Homo sapiens: one gene and its partner. The protein of the gene in region 2 interacts with the protein of the main gene of each other region in a pairwise test. Each region holds a gene or a part of one and is shown on either strand. Other genes may lie near its edges.

Region 1 (16,291 bases), about 120 Mb from region 2:
ATATACACACATACATATGTACACTCTTTGACACACCTCATGGATTGCTGCCATCAGTTTAACCAATAAATTAAAACTAAAAAGAGGGAGGGGAGGGGAGGGGAACTAACGGCAAACTTTTCATGTTTTATCTGGTAAGAAATTGTGAATTTCTCAGAATTTCCCTGGGCAAAAACCTGTGACCAGAGAATCTGTGAAATAAAATACATAAATCTCTACCCCTTGGAAAAAAAAAAAAAAAAATTCCAAAAGATGCAGTTACAAGTGTGCTTCTCAGAACAGGAGCATTCATTCCACTTCATACTCTGGCTTCTCCACCTTCTGGCTTCAAGACAGTTTGTCCCTCGGCTAGGGCAGAGAGGTTCATATGGGCACTTGGGCTCGGTGCACCTTGGGCTCTGGGGGTCGAGGGGCAGGCTGCAGTATGGGAGCGGGGGGAGCCACACTCATCTGAGGTGATGTCTGGCACATCGTCTGACTGTGCATCAGAACTCTCTAGGTCACTGCGGATGCTTTCAGGCTGGGCCAGGCTGATGTCCCAAGGTTTGCTGGCCAGGCAGTCTTTCTGTTCACAGCTTTGGTGTCTGCAGGGGGGATCCTCTTCACTGCCTCCGCCACCACTACCTTCTTCTTCATTCTCTGCCATCTGAGCATGAACATGGAGCGAGTCCTCCGTGCTGCTTCCACTCACCAGCTGATAGTGGCTTGGTTTGGCTTCAATGTCCACTTGGATTTCCATATTGTTGCATTCTCTGTGGAGACAAAATCCACTTTGCTGAGTCATGCATGGATCATGCTAAACCTGTTGGTAAAAGCAGTTCATGGGTTCAGGATTAGGAATTTCAAAAAGATAGGTGAACAGTTAACTAGAGCTCACTTTTAACAAAAATAACATTTTAATCTAACACTCAAATGAGATGGAGGCTGGACGTGGTGGCTCATGCCTATAACCCCAGCGCTTTGGGAGGTCGAGGTGTGAGGACTGCCTGAGTCCAGGAGTTTGAGACCAGCCAGGGCAACAAAGTCAGACCCTGTTTCTAAAATAAAAAAAATTAGCTGGGCATGGAGGCACGTGCCTGTAGTCCCAGCTACTCGGGAGGCTGAGATGGGAAGATCACTTGAACCCAGGAGTTCAAGGCTGCAGTGAGTTATGATTGTGTCACTGCACTCCAGCCTGGTTGACAGAGCAAGACCCTGTCTCTAAAAAAACAAAAATAAAAATAAATGAGATGGAGAAGAGTAATTAGATCCTTTTTGCTGATTTAACTATACATGCACACGTGTGCTCAGATGCACACACACGTGTATCTCAGCCAATCTCTTTAAACATACAGAAAGAGCTTCCAAAATTCAACTAAGGGTCAGAGCCCCATGCTAGCTTACTCAAAATAGAAAAGTAAAAGCTTTTTACTACCATGCCACAAGTAGAAGAAGCCAGAATACCTACTAGTGGGAGTACCACAATCACACCATCCCAGATACACCAGTTTCTCAAAATGAAAGAGAAAGAAGCTATGGGAATCCTATCAAGCAAAGGGCAAGCAGAAACCCTAGACTTGAAGACATCAATGAACATCAATCTAGCTCTTTAAGTTCCATGTAATTATACACTGTTGCAATAGCCAAGAAAGACAAAAAAAAAAAAAAAAAAAAGAAAAAATACATAAAAGGAAGAAAGAAAAGAAATCTCTAAAAATCAAGCGCTAACAAGAAGAATCAAGAGATGCCAAACACTCAAGTACCAAGAACTTGCTCAAATGAATTCACAGGTTACACTATATATCCCAGGAGATGGTACATACAGCCCTAACATGAGGCATTGAACTTCTGAAGACCTAGTACCCAACGAAAAAATGCAACCTCTCCTGGACATCTGACTGTTCACATACCTGTCCTGTGGGTTGTAGGAACTGATTATGGAACCGGCCATAGCACGAGTGCTTGCGTTGTCACTAATTGCACCAAGACTGGCTGTGTCTTTGGGGAAAATTTCCTTTTGGACATCGGCTTGAACTTCTAACCTGTGTAAAGAGGGGACGTTCAAGTTAATATGAGACCTGGGTATTCCAAGACAGTCTGCTTCCTGGCACACATCTCTTCCATTACTCTCTTGCAAATTGTGGTTGTCTGTCTGATCTTCTCCAACTGTCAAACAGCGCAAATAGATGCCCATACATTTTTTCTCTTAAATATCTATTGAAATCGTCCCCTCCTTTCTATCCCCACAGCTACTGCTGAACTTCAGGTTTTCATCATCTCCTGCCTGGATGACTAAAACTGGGCTCCCTCTCCAGTAGCCCTTAAGTCCAAGTCAAACAACCTCTAGAACAGTGCCAGTGTGAATAAAGACCCAATCACTCTAACAATTCTCTAACTCTTGGCTCCCTACTGCCAACAGGCATTAAGGTCTTCCTGATCTGCCAGGAAGCTCTCTGTCCAGTTCTATCACTCCCTATAGATCCGAAATCATAGTCACTCTGAATTCTTTCTTTCTTTAAATACCTATACATTTTATACTTCCATGACTTTGCACATGCTATTCTGTCTCTCTAGAAATTTCCTTTCTCTACCAGACAAACTTATACTCAGTCCTTAACAACAAAGGAACTATCACTTCCCCTCATTATCCCAGCAAACCATTCACTTCTTGCTAAGTACTCCCACAGCACCTGCCTACTTATTTATTATTATTTGTTTTTAGAGGGAGTCTCACTCTGTCACCCAGGCTGGAGTGCAGTGGCACGATCTTGGCTCACTGCAACTTCTGCCTCCCAGGTTCAAGCGATTCTCCTGCCTCAGCCTCCCAAGTAGCTGGGATTATGGGTTCCCACCACCACACCCAGCTAATTTTTGTATTTTTAGTAGAGATGGGGTTTTACCATGTTGGCCAGGCTGGTCTTGAACTCTAAACCTCAGGTGATCACCCACCTAAAAAAGGTGCTGGGATTACAGGCGTGCGCAGGCCCTGCCTACTTATTATTATGCATCTCTCACTTGTCTGTTAACTCCACAAAAGGAGAGACCACAACTCATACACACTTTACCTTCCCTGCCTTGCACATAATAGGAAATCAAACATTTAACAATCAAATTACCTCCAGGGAATGAGACTGAAGGACATACAGGAGCCAACCTCTTCCCTCCTCTTGGAGCAGCAAACTTTCCCAATAGTGTCTCAGAGCCCATAACTATTGCCTTTCTTGGCTCCAACATCACTTTGTTGCACAGTTAAGTATTTCCTTATAATGGGTTTCACAGTCAAACCCATCTGACTCATTCACTTCCTATAAAATAAAGGCTTTCACAGAACTAGAACAGCTGGACTGGCTAAGCTGCAGTTTCAGCAAGTCAGTCTCCAATTATGTCTGTCTGCTTATTTACAGGGGTGTTGGTTTTAAGAAAGCACAGCAGTGAATATGCCAGCATGTGGGGGCGGGATCCCCTGATAAGAGACAACCAGAGTCATGAGATGCACAGACGGGTCAGTAGCAGCCTGCAGCTGCACATTCAAGCAGCTTCCATCCTACTGCCTGAGCCTTTGCTTTGCTGCTCCAGCTTCAGGTGCCCTTCAAAAATGTGCCAAGGCCCAGGGAAATGAGGGAATGCAATGGAAAGTGCACAGTGTCAGAGACCTGGCTTCTAGTTTCAGGTCTGCCACAGAATCACTCTGAGTTGGAAGAGTCTTTCAGAAAGGGCTCCTACTTAGGTGGTTGTCAGATGCTGGTTCATGCAACGGCTGTGCTAGAATTACCTGGGGAGCTTTTGCAAAACACGGATCACCCCCTAGGTGCCACTCCAGGAAATTCTAAGCTACTCATTCTGGGATGGGTCCCTGAAGTCTATTTTTAAGAGGCTCCCAAGTGATTGACAGGCACTCAGGTGGGAGATCCAGTCCACCTGCCATCTGTTGCTTGAATCCTTCTTATAGCCAAATAGCCATCTGGTCTCATTGTAAACATTTCCAGGGATAGGCAGCTCAGTATCTACTAAAGTAGCCTTTTTCCTCTTTGGGCTTTCATGTTGCTTTTCCCTATATTCTCTATACTGAACCAAAATTAGTTTCCCTTTAGCTTCTGCCAAGTCATCTTAATCTACCTTTTGGTATGAGGCATAGAAGTCTAATCCTTTTCACAGTTGAAGGTCCTTTGGATAGCTGAAGGCAACCATCTCCTCTACCTTCCTATCCTGCTTTGTTCTACCTTTACCCCTCCCTAGGCCTTTCTTCTCCGTTGCATTCAACTGCTTCTCAGGCAACATGTTATGCTCCTCTGAAAATATACACTCTGGTCTGCCTAACTAGTGAAATGACCAAGCAAGTCACAATCTTTTTAGTTACAAAGCTTTACATATTTTCAACACAAGTACATAGAATTGATTTTCCTTATCTAGCAAATGGAAATAGAAAGGTAATAAGGATTGCAGTATCACTAAACCAGCTGGGGGCAATGGTTCATGCCTATAATCCTAGCACGTTGGGAGCCAAGTTGGGAGGATGGCTTCAGGCCAGGAGTTTAAGACCAGCCTGGGTAACCGAGCAAGACCCCATCTCTACAAAAAATTTAAAATGTTAGCTGGGTGTGGTGTGTGCACTTGTAGTCCTAGCTACTCAGGAGGCTGAGGTGGTAGGATTGCCTGAGTCCAGGAAGTTGAGGCTGCAGTGAGCCATGATTGTGCCACTGCATTCCAGCCTGGATGACACAGTGAGAAAAAAAACAAAAAAAAATCCCCAAAGCCCACTATCAATAAACCATGATGGGCTGGGTGTGGTGGTTCATGCTTGTAATCCCAGCACTTTGGGAGGCTGAGGCGGGTGGATCACAAGGTCAGGAGCTTGAGACCAGCCTGGCCAACATGAAACCCTGTCTCTACTGAAAATACAAAAATTAGCCAGGCATGGTGGTGCACGCCTGTAGTCCCAGCCTCTTGGGAGGCTGAGGCAGGACAATCACTAGAACCCAGGAGGTGGAGGCTGCAGCGAGCCAAGATTGCACCATTGCACTCCAGCCTGGGCGACAGAGCAAGACTCCGTCTCAAAAAAATAAAATAAAATAAATAAGCCATGATACAGCATAAATGCTACTGAAAGCCAATGACAAGCCTAACGGAGAGCATTTTACGAATTCTATAAAAATGCCTACTCTCCCTTCCTGAAGCAGGCAGCCTCAGGCAGTCAAGGGGGAATCTCAAGTCAGGATTATTCTTTATATAGAGGCAGCTATGGTGCAATGGAAAGAACAATGAACTTTGCATAACTGACGTAACCTTTTTTTCTAAGCTTGTTTCCTATTTGTAAAAGTAAAAAAAAAAAGGCCTGTCGCAGTGACTCATGCCTGTAATCCCAACGGTTTGGGAGGCCAAGGCGGGCGGATCACGAGGTCAGGAGATTGAGACCATCCTAGCTAACATGGTGAAACTCCATCTCTACTAAAAATACAAAAAATTAGCTGGGCGTGGTGGCGGGTGCCTGTAATCCCAGCTACTCAGTAGGCTGAGGCAGGAGAATCGCTTGAACCCAGGAGGCGGAGCTTGCAGTGAGCCGAGATCACGCCATGGCACTCCAGCCTGAGCCACAGAGTGAGACTCTGTCTTTAAAAATAAAAAAGTAAAAACAAAACAAAACAAAACCATTGACAATTAAATCAAAATAAGATGATACGTGGCACAAGCCTGGCACAGAGAAATGGCTCAATGTGTTACTTCTTATAATTCTAACCATTTCTGTCAGAAATTATCTATTTGTTTACCTGCTATATTTTCCCTTGCCACTGGAGAGAATGCCGCCACTCAGCGTGCCCCCTGAGAGGGCTGCAAAGCTGGCCGTTTCGCTGTAAGGACCTTGCATAACACTAAGTCCATCTGTAGGGCTTCCACTAGTGCTCAATACACTAGTCAGGCCTTCAATGCTGCTTTCCCCAATGCTGGGATTCTTGAGGGCTCTCCAGGCATCTGCCACTGGGGATAGAACCAAACATCCAATTCAAGACAGCAGAGCATCAAAACAGTCAGTAGGCATTTTCCTGCAATGACTTTTCAGAGAACTAATGTATTTACTTAATGAACAGGTACTGTGTGCAGTCGCCACATATCAGGTGTTTTAACATATGTTCATATTTAATCCTCCAAATAACTAGGCATTAATAGCCTCAATTTTAGATGAGAAAACTAAAATTTAAAACTAAATGACTTGTCCAAGGCCATGGTAGTTACATGAAACTATAACTCTGATTCCAAGGCCACTATTCTTTCCACTACACTGTTGCTTCCATGTAACCAAACGTGAAGATTTAAAAAATATGTTTGGGTCATGTGCTGATTTTAATAGGAAGCTTCTAGTAGAAAGCTAGAAAAACCGGCCGGGCGCGGTGGCTCACGCCTGTACTTCCAGCACTTTGGGAGGCCGAGGCGGGCGGATCACGAGGTCAGGAGATGGAGACCATCCTGGCTAACACGGTGAAACCCCATCTCTACTAAAAATACAAAAAATTTAGCCGGGCGTGGTGGCGGGTGCCTGTAGTCCCAGCTACTCGGGAGGCTGAGGCAGGAGAATGACGCGAACCCAGGAGCCGGAGCCTGCAGTGAGCCAGGACCATGCCACTGCACTCCAGCCTGGGCAACAGAGCAAGACTCCGTCTCAAAAAAAAAAAAAGAAAAGAAAAAAGGAAGCTAGAAAAACCTTTGGGGTTTTCTACGTTACTTGTGCCCTACGTTACTTACTACGAGTAGAAACCACATTAAAGTAAAAGTCAGAAGACTTGCCCTAGTCTCAGCTCTGTGAAGCTCTTAATAGATAGTAAGATGAAAGCTTAAAGAAATTCCCATTTAGGCCAGATGTGGTGGCTCACACCTGTAATCCCAGCACTTTGGGAGGCCAAGGTGGGCGGATCATGGGGTGAGGAGATCGAGATCTTCCTGGCTAACACGGTGAAACACCAAACCCCGTCTATACTAAAAAAAAAAAATTAGCCAGGCGTGGTGGCACGTTGCTGTAGTCCCAGCTACTCAGGAGGCTGAGGCAGGAGAATCACTTGAACCTGGGAGGCGGAGGTTGCAGTGAACCGAGATCGCGACATCGTACTCCAGCCTGGGTGACAGAGACTCCGTCTCAAAAAAAAAAAAAGAAATTCCCATTTAAATGGGGATAACAGCTCCATCCTCCCTCGTCAGAGAGCTGTTTGTTGTAAAAAGCAAGTGAGATAATTGTGTAAAATACTCTGAAAATTATCAAGTACTGTGCAGATATAAAGATGTTATTATAATCACTACTACTACCAGCATACTTGGAGTTACTTGGATTCCTACTAGTTTGTACCTGCCACACAGAGGCAAGTACCAGGGGAATTAACCTAATAACTTTGGAACAAAGAAATGAAAAGCTAAAAATACTTTACCCCCTACAAAGCTCATTATCCAAAGTAATCCAATGACAATCTCCCTGTAAAATGCGCTGAATTTTACTGATTTTTATCTTGTATATCATAAATTCAAATGGAAATAAACATCCTGCTTTTTACCTGTGATTGGACCATCATCTTCATCAAATTCAATTTTCACTCCTTTTCCGTTGGCTGTGCTAACTCCACAGCCGCCTCCACGACAAAGAGAAATGGGCACAACCCCATAAACATATGCCAGCATAATGGGGACACCAATACCTGGGGGAAGAGAAGGAAACATGTCAGCTGGCTATTAGGTTGCAAGTGCCCTGAATTCTTCTTCCCAGTCTGGGCATGGACAAACCACTTTATAAAGAAAGGAAGACAGAAAGTGGCTATCCCAAAAAGGTGGCCTGGTGTAACAGAATGATGACCAGGCTAGAAATCAGAAAGGTCTGGATTAGATTCTTGGCTCCATTTACTAGCTGTATAACCTTGGACCTATCTTCCCAGGGTTGTCAATAATCAAATGAGAATGCTATGTACTGTGTTTTGCACAGTAAATATATGTTGCTTTCATTTTCCCCTCTTCTAATCACTGCTGAAATGCTAACCCAATCAAGAGCCAATCAAGAATCAAATATTAAATAAGTGACTACTGCTTGGAGTTTAGGATCTCCTCAGGATGTTAATTCCAAAATCTTACTGCTGTGTGAGGTAGAATGGCTTAGCTGTTAAGAGAACAGGATCTGAAGGCAGATTAACTTGATTCATGTCCCAGCTAAGTGACCTTGGGAAAATTACTGCACCTTTCTTTTTTTTTTTTGAGACGGAGTCTCACTCTGTTGCCCAGGCTGGAGTGCAGTGGCACGATCTCGGCTCACTGCAAGCTCCGCCTCCCAGGTTCACGCCATTCTCCTGCCTCAGCCTCCCAAGTAGCTGGGACTACAGGCACCCGCTACCACACCCGGCTGATTTTCTGTATTTTTAGTAGAGATGGGGTTTCACCGTGTTAGCCAGGATGGTCTCGATCTCCTGACCTCGTGATCCGCCCGCCTCGGCCTCCCAAAACACTGGAATTACAGGCGTGAGCCACTGCGCCCAGCCAATTACTGCACCTTTCTATTAAAATTGTGCTTCCTTTTGTAAGGATTGTGAGGATTAAATAAATTAATATATGCAAAAGTCTCAGAACCACTCCTGGCACATGAAGAGCCACATTAAATGTTAGTTACACTATTATTATTCTAAAACAAACTCTTATGCCTCCCAAAGTAATGTGAAGCATTAAACAAATCAAAACAAAAGTAATTTTGTTTTGTGGATTTCATGGCAAGTAGAGAAGGAAGATGAAAGGTGAAAACTAGGGCTTAAAATAAGTTTCTGTAATTCAACCTTTTCTATGTGCCAAATGGAGTTCTAGGCACTAACTTAAGAACAAAAGATTGCACACTCTGATAATTTGGTGTGCTTGAAAAACTTAAAAATAATCATAATCATGGTGCCTAACAGAATTTACTATCAAGGTGGGTTCGCATAAAATGTAGGAGTCTTTGAGAAACATCTGGCCATCTGGCTAAACTGCTATGGTCAGAAAGCTGAGAGAGAAGAGGTGTGGTCCTGACTAGCTTACCAACACTAACTGCAGCAATAACTGGGGATGCAATGACCGACAAAGTCACTCCTCCAGTGATAGCCAAATTCCTCTTGTGTTTGGAGGTTTTCCTTCCCTCATACCTGCTGTGAATCTAAGAATAAAAAAAGAAAATCCAGGTCAGCAGGTTAGGACATCAATCTTTTGCCAGAGAAAAAAAGGACAGGTGAATATTCACTTGTAAGTTATCTATATTAAAACATATCCTCTACCCCAAATAGGCATCTTTATCAAATTTTAACCTAACTCAGACCTGGAAGATATAAAGTAATACAGGCAAAGTTAATCCAAAAAGAGACAAAATAACTCCAGCAGAATGAAGTAAGCATTTTACCTTCTTCTTTTATTTTTTTTTTTGGAGTCTGTCATGCAGGCTGGAGTGCAGTGGTGCGATCTTGGCTCACTGCAACCTCTACGTCCCTGGGCTCAAGCAATCCTCCCACCTCAGCCTCCCTAGTAGCTGGGACTGTAGGCACATGCCACCATACCCAGCTAATTTTTCTATTTTTTTGGGTACAGATGGGTTTTGTCATGTTGCCCAGGCTGGTCTCAAACACCTGGGCTCAACTGATCTACCTGCCTTGGCTTCCCAAAGTGCTAGGCCACGTATTACAAATGTGAACCATCATGCCTGGCCCAGCATTCTACCTTTAAGTCACTGAGACAAGCCAGGCCCAGGATGTTAATAAGAACTTTCAGATCTCATGGGGGTTTATGAAAATCCATTTAAGAAAGTAAGGTTATTTTTATCTAAGAACCAGCTGGTTTTCAGGCAGCTCTGAAACATAGCTCCTTCCCATTTCCCTCAAACCTTTACTAACGAACCTAAAGTTGAAACAAGCACAGAAACCAGCATGTCTTTCTTACCTTCCTTCCAACATAAACAGGAATGCCAATGACCATGGCAGGAATGGCAATGCCAGCAATGAGAGAAATCCCCACTGGAGCACCAATCAACGTGCCCAGCTGCCAAAGAATTTTCTTCTTACGGCTCCATGGCTTCTTGCCCCAGAATGTACAGCCAGAGGGGCTGCAGGGGAAACAGACTGAAGTTAATGTCAACATTACAAATACAGCTAGTATTATCATAGGGCTTGATAACAGCAACAGCCTTCTTTTCAGTAAGGATTAACAGAAGAGTTTATGGGAAATGAATACATTACACAAGGGAGAGCAAAGGACAAGGCCAGACTATTAGAGCTCTGGGCTCTTTAACTTTTTTGGTTGTTGTTGTAAAGACAGGCTTCCAGACTTGAAATTCCTTTTCCATTCTTCTCTGCTGAATTCTGTCTTCCCTAACCCACCAAAACTGATCTAGCTTCCATGACTGACAATACTTGGGATGCTGCATAGCCTTATGCACTTGACATCCCATCCAGACACACTGCACCCTGCACTAATGAACACTCTGATTTGTGTAGTTTTCTTGGCATATGTCCTACCATACCTAATAGATACTGCAAACCATGTTCGTGGGAGAGGATATAAAAAGACCTCATCATAACCTTTCTATCAGTTTGGTATTCTGAGTTTGGCTACTTTTACAGTCAGCCCTTCTGTGCCCAACCATTTTTGCCCATTCTCTTTGTGCTATCTTCTCCACTAGAAGGGATAAACAATTTTGAAAATAGGGATCATGTCTTACTCACCCCTATGTCCCCAATGACTAGCACACAGTAAGTACTCAAATGTTCGACAAATTGGCAATGAAGGTGTTGTGTTTCATTTACACAATGAATGTTTGTTTGTAAATATTAACACATTTTGTTTATTTGTAAATATTAGCAAACATTTTGTTTGTAAATATTAACTCCTCCACAACATTTTAATATTCACTCAATGAGGCTGGGCGCGGTGGCTCGCGCTTGTAATCCCAGAACTTTGGGAGGCCGAGGCAGGCGGACCACCTGAGGTTCGAGTTCGAGACCAGGCTGGCTAACATGGTGAAACCCCGCCTCCACTAAAAATACAAAAATTAGCTGGGCATGGTGGCAGGTGCCTGTAATCCCAGCTACTTAGGAGGCTGAGGCAGGACAATCACTTGAACCTGGGAGGTGGAGGTTGCAGTGAGTCGAGATCGAGCCACTGCACTCCAGCCTGGGCGACAGAGAGAAACTCTGTCTTAAAAAAAAAAAAAAAAAGAATTCACTTAATGAATTCCTTGGGAACTCACTAAATGCAAAAAACTGTAAAAAGGTCACAACTCTAGCCTCAAGATACTTACAGTTTAGTAAGATAAGATAGGTACGTGAAGTGTAAAGTACTGACGATATTTATGACAAAAGATAAAAGAAAGTCAAAGAATGAGGCGGAAAAAGGAGAGGCAACATGGATGAAAGGCATTTAAGTGGCTCTTAAAAGATAAGAACTGAACAAGTTGAGATAAAAGGAGGATACTGGAAGGTAGGCAGAAAGCATTCTAGGCAAAGGAAAGAACATGAACAAGTATGGAGGCAAGACAGCAAAAGGGAAAAAGCAAGTCCAGACTACCTGTAATATGGCAAGCAAAGAAAGGTAGAAACAGAATAGTAGCTGGTGAAAACATGATTAGAGGAGCATGTCAGAAGAAGTTTTCACAGCTTCCTTAAACCTGTAATGAGAGAACGGATGTGTCTTTTTGACATCCTTTTCCCTAAATCAGTAAGAGAATGAGACTACGAAAGGAATGGATGCATTTCCCATCTTACCTGAGGTAATGCAAGTCTGAGATCTCTTTCATACAAAGCCAACAGAATTCACAGCCACACACTGCACAGGTCATGTGATTACAGCTTCCATCATTCATCTTGATAATGTATGCACTGCATCGTGGGCATGGCTTGATGTCATCTGCTATGAGTGGGGGAAGAATGGGTAGAAAAAATACCCCTAGTTAAATCCAGTTTGATTTAATTGTTCCTAGGAGTATATATAAGAAATGAGGCAGCAGTCAAGAACTCTTCACTGAACACTCCAAATTGTACAACCCACTTTACTGGAAGGTTGGCTATGTCTAGACCTCAGGAATTTTCATAAAATGAATCCTGTCTCTTATTGAGCTGCCTATCCCAACAACTGGCATCTTACACAGCACTTGAACCACATTCTAGCAAGGAGATTTCCTTAGGGAGAAAGATGTTTCCAAGAAAAATGAAATTTCTACCAGTCGATAGGCTGGTAGATTTAAAAGAAGAATCCTACAGAAAGAATAGCCTGCAGCCTGGAATTAGCTTTACATTTTTAAAAACTTTAGTTTGGGAAATTTATTTTTCAGGTTCAACATGTATCATTGTGATTTGCTGTTAACATAGCCCACAATCCCTTCCCATGATACTTTCAAATTCAAAACCTAAAAACAACTGGGTATGCTATCTACCATATACTTGGTAATTTTCAGAGCAAGTTATGAACTATCCTAATAAAATGACAATTTAGGAAATTATGCTGTGCCAGGAAAAAGTGAATGGCAAAATCTTTCCTACTAGCCTCTCCCAAATGACATCAGCAAAATAAAAGTACAAAGCAATAAATCCACTGACATTTTAAAATAGGTTTCCTCTGACTCGCCAAGGTTGGAGCTGAATGTGTGACATTCCTCCTTTTAAGGTTAATCATTAATCTATACTAATACTGTTTCCTTTTCTTCAATCTGTACTCTACTTCCAAAGGCAGTGAGGCACTTAAGTCAGCTTGAAGGCAAACAGCACAGGTTTAATACTAATTAAATGTCTTTCTGTTCACAATGAAAGTTTTGAAAAAGCCCCTAGCAAAACAAAATGAACTAATTGCTCTCCAATCTGAGACATATTACTAAGAAAGTAGGAACTACATAATTCAATTTTGTTGCATTTCAATTTTATATAGTTGGATAACCTATAATGGTCAGAGAGGGAAGTGCTATCTTTATTATAATATTGAAAGTATTATCAAATGATATTTTCTGCTCTCTGATCCTTTGGAGTACTTGGGTTATACAATAAGATAATTTCTTTCAGCTATGGGCTCACATCATGAAATACCAAATAAAGAGACAATGAGATAATGCCAACTTATACCTGGTCCAGATTCTTGCCCATAACTGAGACCTGAAGTGTGTTTGGTCCGAACTCGTAAAGTCTGGGCCCTCTGTTGACGGGCCATATCGCATGTCTGATTTGGATGCCATATCTGCTTGCAGTGGTAGCAGAACTCAGTCTGGCAACCTTCCCTCTCACAAGTTAGCTTCGGGCAGCTGGCACAGCCATAGGCAATAACAGCATAACTAGGTAAGGAAACAGTAAGAGATACCAGTAAGGTAAGAATGATCTAACCAAAAGAGACATTATTCATCAGAGTTAACAATGTTTGGCACTACCCCACTATCACATATGATACAGAGAAAAGAATACACATACACACATATACACACACAAGCACATTTGACCAACTGTAAAATATATCCCATGTGAGAAAGTAAACTTTTTTTTTTTGAGACAGTCTTGCTCTGTCACCCAGGCTGGATTGTGGAGTGCAGTGGTGTAATCTCGGCTTACTACAACCTCCACCTCCCAGGTTCAAGCAATTCTCCTGCCACAGACTCCCTAGTAGCTGGGATTACAGGTGCAAGCCACCACGCCTGGCTAATTTTTTTTGTATTTTTAGTAGAGATGGGGTTTCACCATGTTGGCCAGGCTGGTCTCAAACTCCTGACCTCAGGTGATCCACCCGCCTCGGCCTCCCAAAGTGCTGGGATTACAGGCGTGAGCCACCATGCCTGGCTATAAATTTCTTGAGATTCCAAAAACACAAATCATTTATTTACTTTAAAAAGTGGAGGTGGAGTATCTTATTTATCCTGGATTTCCAGCATTTATTCAATCATAGCTGAAGCTGCTTTAGGAGTAGTTTGTCATAATAAGTTTCATAAATAACAGGGTACAAAACTATTTCCTTTTGATAGTTTGCTATATTTAGAGAGATTAGTATTTGTTTATACGAAGGAAGAGGACATTAGTGAAATAAAGAGCTATGGCAAAAACTAAAGTTTATTTTTTAATTCCTTCTTTTTTTTTTTTGAGATGGGGTCTCACTGTCACCCAGGGTGGAATGCAGTGGCTCACTGCAACCTCCGCATACCAGGCTCAAGCAATCCTCTTGCCTCAGCCTCTAGAGTAGCTGGGACTACAGGTGCGCACCACCACACTTGGCTAATTTTTGTAATTTGCATAGAGATGGGGTTTCGCCCCATTGCCCAGGCTGGTCGCAAACTTCCGGGCTCAATCAATCAGCCTGCCTCAGCCTCCCAAAGTGCTGGAATTACAGGCATGAGCCACCATGCTACCTTTTCATTCTTTTTTTTTTTTTTTTGAGATGGAGTCTCGCTCTGTCGCCAGGCTGGAGTGCAGTGGCGCGACTCGGCTCACTGCAACCTCCGCCTCCCGGGTTCAAGCGATTCTCCTGCCTCAGCCTCCTTAGTAGCTGGGACTATAGGCATGCATCACCATGCGCAGCTAATTTTTGTATTTTTGTAGAGATAGGGTTTCACCATGTTGGCCAGGATGGTCTCGATCTCTTGACCTTATGATCCGCCCTCCTCGGCCTCCCAAAGTGCTGGGATTACAGGCGTGAGCCACTGCACTCAGCCTTTTTCATTTTTTTTCTTCAAGTAAAAATTGTTTTATTGTCATTAACATATTTAATATAAAAAGAAATGAAGCAAATGGCTCAGTGTTGTATTTTTTAAAAAATCCAGGTTTGTGCAGGTTACTCTATTTACATCTGGGAGCAGAGCTGTCCCCACGTCAGGCATAGCAGTTGCACTTCTCCAACGCCCCTTTGCAGATGCAGCCCTGGGCACACTTGGCACAGCCCACGGGGCAGCAGGAGCAGCAGCTCTTCTTGCAGGAGGTGCATTTGCACTCTTTGCACTTGCAGGAGCCGGCGCACATGCAGGAGCCACCAGTGGCACAGGAGCAGTTGGGGTCCATTTCGAGCAAAGGAGATGCTGGAGCTCCCACCGGTGAGGCCAACAAGCAGTCAGGCAGTTGGAAAGCATGCTGCCTTTTTCATTCTTAAGTTCCAGTTCCACAGTGAAGCTGGTCTGACCATAGTCACAGAGACAATAAACCCTAAAGACTTATGATCAGCATCCCTCTTGAAAGCTCATCTTATCTTTCCATACTTTTTCAATTCAAACCTATACCTTGAAATGTCTTGATAGGCTCCAGAATCCAAGAATACCAGGCCTCTATCTTATAAATTAAAATAGCATTAAGGCCATACCTCCCTTTCTCTCTTCTGACACATATTCTTTTTTTTTTTTTGAGACAGAGTCTCACTATATCGCCCAGGATGGAGCGCAGTGGCGTGATCTCGGCTCACTGCAATCTTCTCCCAAATTCAAGTGATTCTCCTGCCTCAGCCTCCCGAGTAGCTGGGATTACAGGCGCCCGCCACCACGCCCGGCTTTTTTTTTTTTTTTTTTTTAGTAGAGACAGGGCTTCACCATGTTGGCAAGACTGGTCTTCAACTCCTGACCTCTGGTGATTTGCCTGTCTTGGCTTCTCAAAGTGTTGGGATTACAGGTGTGAGCCACTGCACTCAGCTGTGACACATATTCTTCATGTAAAGATTCAGAATTTATCAGCACTAATGTCGACCATTTCTTGTAGTTCATGTTCATTTACCAAGAATTAGTCTCACACAAACAATCCAATATATTTATATAACTATTAGCCTTTCTGATTAATTCCAAATATGTCAATTAAGCGCTCAGATTACTCTAACAAGAAATATAATACTTGTATAAAATAACATTTTAGCCAGGTGAGATGGCTCATGCCTGTAATCTCAGCACTTTGGGAGGCTGAGGCAGGAAGATCGCTTGAGGCCAGCATTTTTAGACCAGCCTGGGCAACACAGCAAGACCTTTTCTCTTAAAAAAAAAAAAAAAAAAAAAAAAAAAAAACAGCCTGGCGTGGTGGCTCACACCTGTAATCCCAGCACTTTGGGACACTGAGGCAGGCAAGTCACAAGGTCAGGAGTTCGAGACCAGCCTGGCCAACATGGTGAAACGCTGTCTCTACTAAAAATACAAAAAATTAGCTGGGCATGGTGGCGGGCGCCTGTAATCCCAGCTACTCAGGAGGCTGAGGGAGGAGAATCGCTTGAACCCGGGAGGTGGAGGTTGCAGTGAGCAGAGATTGCGCCACCATGGGTGTCACTCCAGCCTGGGTGACAGTGTGAGACTCCATCTCAAAAAAAAAAAAAAATCAGCCAGGTATGGTGACACAGGCCTGCAGTCACA
Region 2 (7,020 bases):
GAGTAGCTGGGATTACAGGTGCCCACCACCATGCCCATCTAATTTTTGTATTTTTAGTAGAGACAGAGTTTCACCATGTTGGCTAGGCTGGTTTCGAACTACTGACCTCAAGTCATCCACCCGCCTTGGCCTCCCAATAAATTTAAAACCTCCATAGTGCAGATTAAATGCTGCTCCCAAACCCAGAACAGGGCTTGAACCCACGGAAAACTCAGTACATGCTATAGGGATGACTGGCTTGTTCAGGTCCCTCCCCAGTTTCCTTCCCCATCCCCACCTCTCCTAGACTTCCCCTTCACAACCCATCCCTACTTTTCCAGCCACCTCTGCCTACCAGGGTTCAACCCTCCTGCAAATGAAAAGCCTCCTTCATTATATTAAAACAAAGCCTCTCCAAAGTCAGCCAGAAGACAGCTTACAGGGGACCCACGCTGTGGGATCCATCTCCCACTCCTCCAGTAGTGTCTCCTCTTGCATCTCACTTTGCCTTCTGCTGCCTGGCTATCAATCAGACCTAACTAACAGGGAAGACTTCATCTCGCTATGTCACTCAGGCTGGAGTGCAGTGGCACAATCACGGCTCACTGCAACCTCCGCCTCCCAGGTTCAAGTGATTCTCCTGCCTCAGCCTCCTGAGTAGCTGGGACTACATGTGGGCGCCACCACGCCCAGCTAATTTTTGTATTTTTAGTAGAGACGGGGGTTTCACCATGTTGACCAGGCTGGTCTCGAACTCCTGACCTCATGATCCCCCCCACCTCAGCCTCCCAAAGTCCTGGGATTACAGGCGTGAGCCACCATGCCGGGCCAAGACTCTTTTAATCCCCATTCCAGTATAGGCAAAGCCCCCCTTTCCCTTCATTCCCCTGAGATATATGAGATAGACAGCATTTATAAAAAGAATTTTAATAGATACTCCAGAATCAACAGGAAAAAAATTGGCAAGTATCACAGCAATAGTTCATGTTCTAGAATAGGGGTTTCTAATGATACAATAACTTCACTCAGGCCCCAGGGAGATAGGACAATATCAGACTGCCTTCTTCCCCGGTCTCTGCCAACCTAACAGCTTCTGATTTCAGGACACAAAATCTAAGACTTGCCAGGTTCAAGGCCTCCACCCCCAAAGCAAAGCAGTTTGGATGACCCACCTTCCATCAGAGCCAAAAGTCCGGTTGATGGACTGAGTAAGTATACTTGCCCAGGCCCCAACCTCTCCAGAGCAGACTCGAGTCCCTCAGGTAAAAGCTTTCTCGGCCAGGCGCGGTGGCTCACACCTGTAATCCCAGCACTTTGGGAGGCCGAGGTGGGTGGATCACCTGAGGTCAGGAGTTCGAGACCAGCCTGGTCAACACAGTGAAACCCCGTCTCTATTAAAAATACAAAAGTTTGCTGGATGTGGTGGCACGCACCTGTAATCCCAGCTACTCAGAAGGCTGAGGCAGGAGAATCACTTGAACCCAGGAGGTGGAGGTTGCAGCAAGCCGAGATCACACCATCGCACTCCAGCCCAGGTGACAGAGCAAGGCTCTGTCTCAAAAAAAAAAAAAAAGCTTTCTCTCACATCTGTCAAAAGTCCCCCATAAGCCACAGGTGAATGCCACACAGGTACAGAGCAACTGAACCAAAGCCTTACTCCCCCAAGTCATGAATCCCTCACCTCCTTGAGCCGGGCAATAGCATCTCCTATCTCTGGGTGCCCCATCTCATCCTCAGTCAGCACCCTAACGATCTGGGAGAAGTGCTGAACGAAATCCTGCTTTTCTTGGGCATAAACATCTGAATTCTGGTCTCCGTTCATTCTGAGGGAGGAGCAAAGGGCTCTAAGTAGAAGAAAAACAAGTCAGAAACCTGATCAGCTGCTCCCCTCCCCAAGGCCCCTCACCCCAACCACACTCACCGAGGTTCCTCTGTCCACGCTTGGCACCAGCAGCGGGCACTGTGCCAGGCCAGGACTGGGTACCCGTGCACCAGGGAGGGCCGCCGTAGGGAACCCAGCCACCTCTCCCGGGGTGCCCAGTAGGGGGCTGGCAGCAGGAAGACCCCCACAGATCTCAACCAGCGGGACAGGGGCATCCTGGGAGTGGCATAGGGAGGGGGCACTAAGCACTCCCTGCAGGGGCAAGCACCAAAGGCAGAGGCATGGTGGCAGCTCCCCAGATAACTCCCACCCCAGCCTTAGCCCAGAGTGCCCCTCCCTCTTGTGGAATGTGCTTGGGGACAATTACAGGAAGGATACGCAGGGAACAAAAAAGTATGGCTGGGTGACTGAGACCCAACTAATCACCACTTACAATAAACAGGCTAGAACTCAGTGCCTTCAAGATGGCGTGCACAAGGCTGGGTAAGGAGGCGGTACAGAGTAAAGTACCCCAGGATTAGGGGCTGAAAGGACCCTTAAGTCATCCTATTTTACACAAGCCAAACTGAGGCTCTAGGAGGTAGGAAGATAGTAGAGGCAGAGCCAAATCTAGAACCCAGGTCTCCCCTGGGCAGTGGAGAGGGGTGCCCAGGGTCTGAGTTACGCCCCAAGGAGGAAAGAAGCATTGGAGCGAGAACCCATGGGTGCTGCATCCATATGGTCCGGGGTGCTTGAACCGCGCGTCCCAAGCCCCACAGGAATCGCTAGGACTGAGCAGATAGGCTCGGAGCAACTCTGGACGGGAGAGAAGGGCTCGCAGCAAAGGAGTAAACCGGGGTCCGGGCATATTGGGGATTCCAGGAAAGCACAAGGGCAGAGTTGGGAAGTCTCCACACCCCTAGAAGGCCAGCCAGTCTAGCCCACCGACCTTCAAAACGGACACAACAGGCTGGCCTTCCGATGCCTCACAGTATCGTTACAGAAGTAAGGCCCGGTCTCGGCCCCCTTCCTCCAAGGCCCAGCACACATCCTCTCTCACCTGTTCCCAGATACGGATTCCTGCTCGGTCCCGCTTGTTGGCGGGTACTCCTAAAAGCAGAATCCGCTCCGCGATCGGCTCTGTGGGTCGAGTAGTTCCCGCTCTCCCCACACTAAGGGCGGAAATATATAATTAGACTACAACTCCCAATGTGCCCGCGGGAGGGACAGATAACGCGATCCTGCGTGTCCTGGCTGGGCGAAGATGAGCCGCGCTGATTGGCTGCTGGCCGTCGTGTGAGCATGGCGCACTGTGGCACTGTGACGGACGACCAATGGAAGGGCTGAAGTCTAGAGGTCGCGGCTGGAGGCGTCAGTGCCGGAAGCGAGCCAGGCTGGGAACGTCCCCGCTGTGGCTTTGGCTGCCTGTCTTACTCAAGTTTTCATTATCTTCCTGGGCAGCTGATTGGCACGTTAGTAAAACGCAGCAGGACTAGCTTTCTCACTTATTAGTTCTCTAACTTTAGGCAAATCATTTAACGTCTCTGATCCTCAGTGAACTTGCTTGAAACTAGCTTTCCTCATCTGTTGAATGAGGGTGGTAATACCATGAGGTAATGTGTGCAAAGTGCTTTAAGGGCTTAAGAAAGATGAGTCTTGGGCCGGGCACGGTGGCTCACGCCTGTAATCCCAGCACTTTGGGAGGCCGAGGCGGGTGGATCATGAGGTCAGGAGTTCGAGACCAGCCTGACCAATGTGGTGAAACCCCGTCTCTACTAAAAATACAAAAAAAAAAAATTAGTCGGGCGTGGTGGCGCGCGCCTGTAATCCCAGCCACTCAGGAGGGCTGAGGCGGGAGAATCGCTTGAACTCGTAAGGCAGAGGTTGCAGTGAGCTGAGATCCAGCGAACCACTGCACTCTAGCTGGGGAGACAGAGCAAGACTCCGTCTCAAAAAAAAAAAAAAAAAAAGATGAGTCTCACACTTGTAATTCCAGCACTTTGGGCGGATCACCTGCGGTCAGGAATCTGAGACCAGCCTGGTCAACATGGCAAAACCCCTTCTCTACTAAAAATACAAAAATTACCCAGGTGTGCTGGTCCGCGCCTTAATTCCAGCTACGTGGGAGGCTGCAACCTCGCTTCCCGGGTTCAAGTGATTCTCCTGGATTACAGGTGCCTGCCAGCATGCCCAGCTAATTTTTGTGTTTTTAGTAGAGAGGGGGTTTCTCCAGATTGGCCAGCCTGGTCTCGAACTCCTGACCTCAAGTGATCCAGCCACCTCGACCTCTGAAAGTGCTGGGATTACAAGTACGAGCCACTTGGCCCAGGCAGTTATTTATTGATTATAAGCTAAACAAGGGTTGGATTATTCATGCCTCTGCTTTGTAGACCATATACAGTTAACTCCCTGATGTCGACACAGCATGTGGTAGGAGTATAGCGTTGAAGACCACCAGAGGTCACTCTTGTTGCCATCTTGGTTTTGGTAGGTTTTGGCCAGTTTCTTTACTGCAATCTGTTTTATCAGCAAGGTCTTTATGACCTGTATCTTGAGCCAATCTCCTATCTCATCCTGTGACTTAGAATGCCTAAACCAACTGGAAATGCAGTCCAGTAGGTCTCAGCCTTATTCTACCCAGTCCCTATTCAAGATGGAGTTGCTCTGGTTCACGCACCTCTGACAATTATGCTAAGTGAAATAAGCCAGACTCAAAAGGACAGATACTGTATGATTCCGTGTATATAAGGTACTGTCACCGGTGGAGGGTGTCCAGGTTCTTGGCATCTTGAACAAAGAATTGGACAAAACACGGCTGGGTGCAGTGGCTCACGCCTGTAATCCCAGAGCTTTGGGAGGCCAAGGTGGGCGGATCACGAGGTCAGGAGTTCAAGACCAGCCTGGCCAACATAGTGAAACCCCATCTCTACTAAAAAATCCAAAATTAGCCCAGCATGGTGGCGCACACCTGTAGTGCCAGCTACTCGAGAAGCTGAGGCAGGAGAATCGCTTGAACCCGGGAGGCAGAGGTTGTGGTGAACCGAGATCGCTCCGGGAGGAATGAAACAGGAGGAATGAACAACTCCAGATGCGCGGCCTTAACAGCTGTAACACTCACCGCGAAGGTCTGCAGCTTCACTCATGAGCCAGCAAGACCACGAACCCACCAGAAGGAAAAAACTCCGAACACATCTGAACATCAGAAGGAACAAACTCCGGACACACCACCTTTAAGAACTGTAACACTCACTGCGAGGGTCCGCGGCTTCATTCTTGAAGTCAGTGAGACCAAGAACCCACCAATTCCGGATACATAAATCTGCATGTGTGAGTGTGGATATTGTGTGAGTGTTAGAGTGGAGTACGTATTTGTGTGTGTGTGTGGAATGGTGGGGAGCTTTGTGTATGTTTACGTGTGTGTATGTGTCTGACCAGGGGGCACCTCGTCTGTTAAGCTGCCCTGACCTCCTTCTGCCCTCACTCACAATGCTCTGTCTCTCCTGGTGTCCCTCTGTGTGCTGAGCACAGTTCTGTCAGTGCCCCCCGACTTCCTTTATTAAACCTGACTGGCCTCGCTCCTGTCTCCATCCCCACACTGAGCAGAGACCTGGGCCCAGTGGCCTCACCTCCTCCAGTCTGGCATGCGTCGGGGCACGGCCCATATGGGGGTTCAGTCCATGCCTGTGGAATGAAAAGCCACCTGCGTTTGTGTCTGTGCATGTGTGAGTGTGGCTGTTGGAGCATGTGTGTTTGTGGCAGGAGGGAGGGCTCTCAACTGACAAAGCTGAGTGTTGTGTTTGGATGCTGGGCTTCTGTTTCTCACCCACAGGCCTCTTGCTCAGGGATGATCCTGTGACAAAGTGCAGACCATGCTTCATGTGGTCACTTGTGGACCAGGGTCAGCCAGACTGCTGAGGAAACTGGCCTGATTTCAGGTCAAAGTGTCTGTCCCTTAGCTGGACAGGACACGGGCTGCTTTGGAGAACTGCCCCCCACCTCCTGCTAATCCCTTGGGACTGGGATATCTGGGATTCCTATCCTCCCAACTGGTTCTGGAGTCAGTTCAATATTGCCAGACCACAGCTGGGCGTGGTGGCTCATGCCTGTAATTCCAGTACTTTGGGAAGTGAAGGCGGGTAGATCACTTGAGCCCAGGAGTTCTGCACCAGCCTGGACAACGTGGTGAAACTCCATCTCTACAGAAAATACCAAAAAAAAAAAAAAAAAAATTAGCTGGGCATTGTGGTGCGTGCCTGTAGTCCCGACTCCTTGGGACGTTGAGGTGGGAGGATCACCTGAGCCCAGGAGATTGAGACTGCAGTGAGCAGAGATCATGATACTGCATTCCAGCCTGGGCTACAGAGGAAGGCCCTGTATCAAAAACAAAGTAATGCCAGACCATCCTTAAAGTCCCATGTCTCTGCCAACACCACAAGCACAAGGCCTGAATCCCCAGTCCCTGAAGTCTGCCACATTCTCTGTGGGTACAAATTTTGTCTCTCTTTATTTGTTGTGTCTTCTATATACAGAAAGATGAGGCCCCATGCTCATTTCCCTCCGGAAGTCCTCTCTACTATCTCTCTCTTTCTTTTCCAACTCCAGAGTCAGAGACTTCTCCCTTTCCCACCCACTGAAACAGTCCCAAGGGGCAGGCATGGAGCTTAGTGGTTACAGCTCGGGCTCTGGAGCTCCACTATCTGGGCCTGAATCCCAGCTCCACTCCTGACAAGACTTTTTGCATCAGACAAGTGTATTCGGTAGGGTTTCTTCAGGAAATAAAGAATTCTCTTAAATGGGATAATTTGAAGGTGTTTCATAACAGGATTATACAAAGGAATGGGCAGGGTGTTGGTAAACCACAACGGATAGTGCATTACCCCAGATCTAATAACAGTGGGCTTTGTTACCCCTGTAAGGTCCAAGGGATAGGGAGAGAATGGTCCCTAGAATGGCAACTGGGGAGGTAAATGCTCAACCTCACCCTCTCCATCTCATCTCCTATGGGTGCCACTCTCCAAACCCTACAGACGCCACTGTGCAAAGCCGTCAGCCTCCTGGCCCCACAGCAGAGTGGAAAAGGAACACACCTTGCTACGGCCCAGTTCCCTCATCTGTAAAACAGCCTGTTGATCCTACCTTCTTTCTAGGTTGTCACAATGATAAAAGGAGATGGTGTCCAT

What was found.
Region 1: the proteins of FDPS (region 2) and RNF19B interact in binary tests that used the Homo sapiens proteins (3 or more experiments, as listed by UniProt).

Annotation. Positions count from the first base shown.
Region 1 is NC_000001.11:32,936,508-32,952,798, forward strand, and holds part of RNF19B (E3 ubiquitin-protein ligase RNF19B), read right to left. Parts: intron 15,303-16,291; exon of another isoform or gene 14,973-15,302; coding exon of another isoform or gene 14,787-14,972; exon of another isoform or gene 14,701-14,786; intron 13,268-14,700; coding exon 13,062-13,267; intron 11,860-13,061; coding exon of another isoform or gene 11,857-11,859; coding exon 11,715-11,856; intron 10,058-11,714; coding exon 9,895-10,057; intron 9,122-9,894; coding exon 9,007-9,121; intron 7,653-9,006; coding exon 7,512-7,652; intron 5,953-7,511; coding exon 5,745-5,952; intron 2,022-5,744; coding exon 1,890-2,021; intron 803-1,889; coding exon of another isoform or gene 781-802; exon of another isoform or gene 753-780; coding exon 299-752; 3' UTR 1-298. Other genes in the region: metallothionein-1E-like, read right to left, coding at 14,787-14,972.
Region 2 is NC_000001.11:155,304,846-155,311,865, reverse strand, and holds the start of FDPS (farnesyl pyrophosphate synthase), read right to left. Parts: upstream 3,001-7,020; 5' UTR 2,901-3,000; exon of another isoform or gene 2,790-2,900; intron 2,078-2,789; 5' UTR 2,077-2,077; coding exon 1,901-2,076; intron 1,824-1,900; coding exon 1,661-1,823; intron 1-1,660. UniProt on the Homo sapiens protein: Key enzyme in isoprenoid biosynthesis which catalyzes the formation of farnesyl diphosphate (FPP), a precursor for several classes of essential metabolites including sterols, dolichols, carotenoids, and ubiquinones.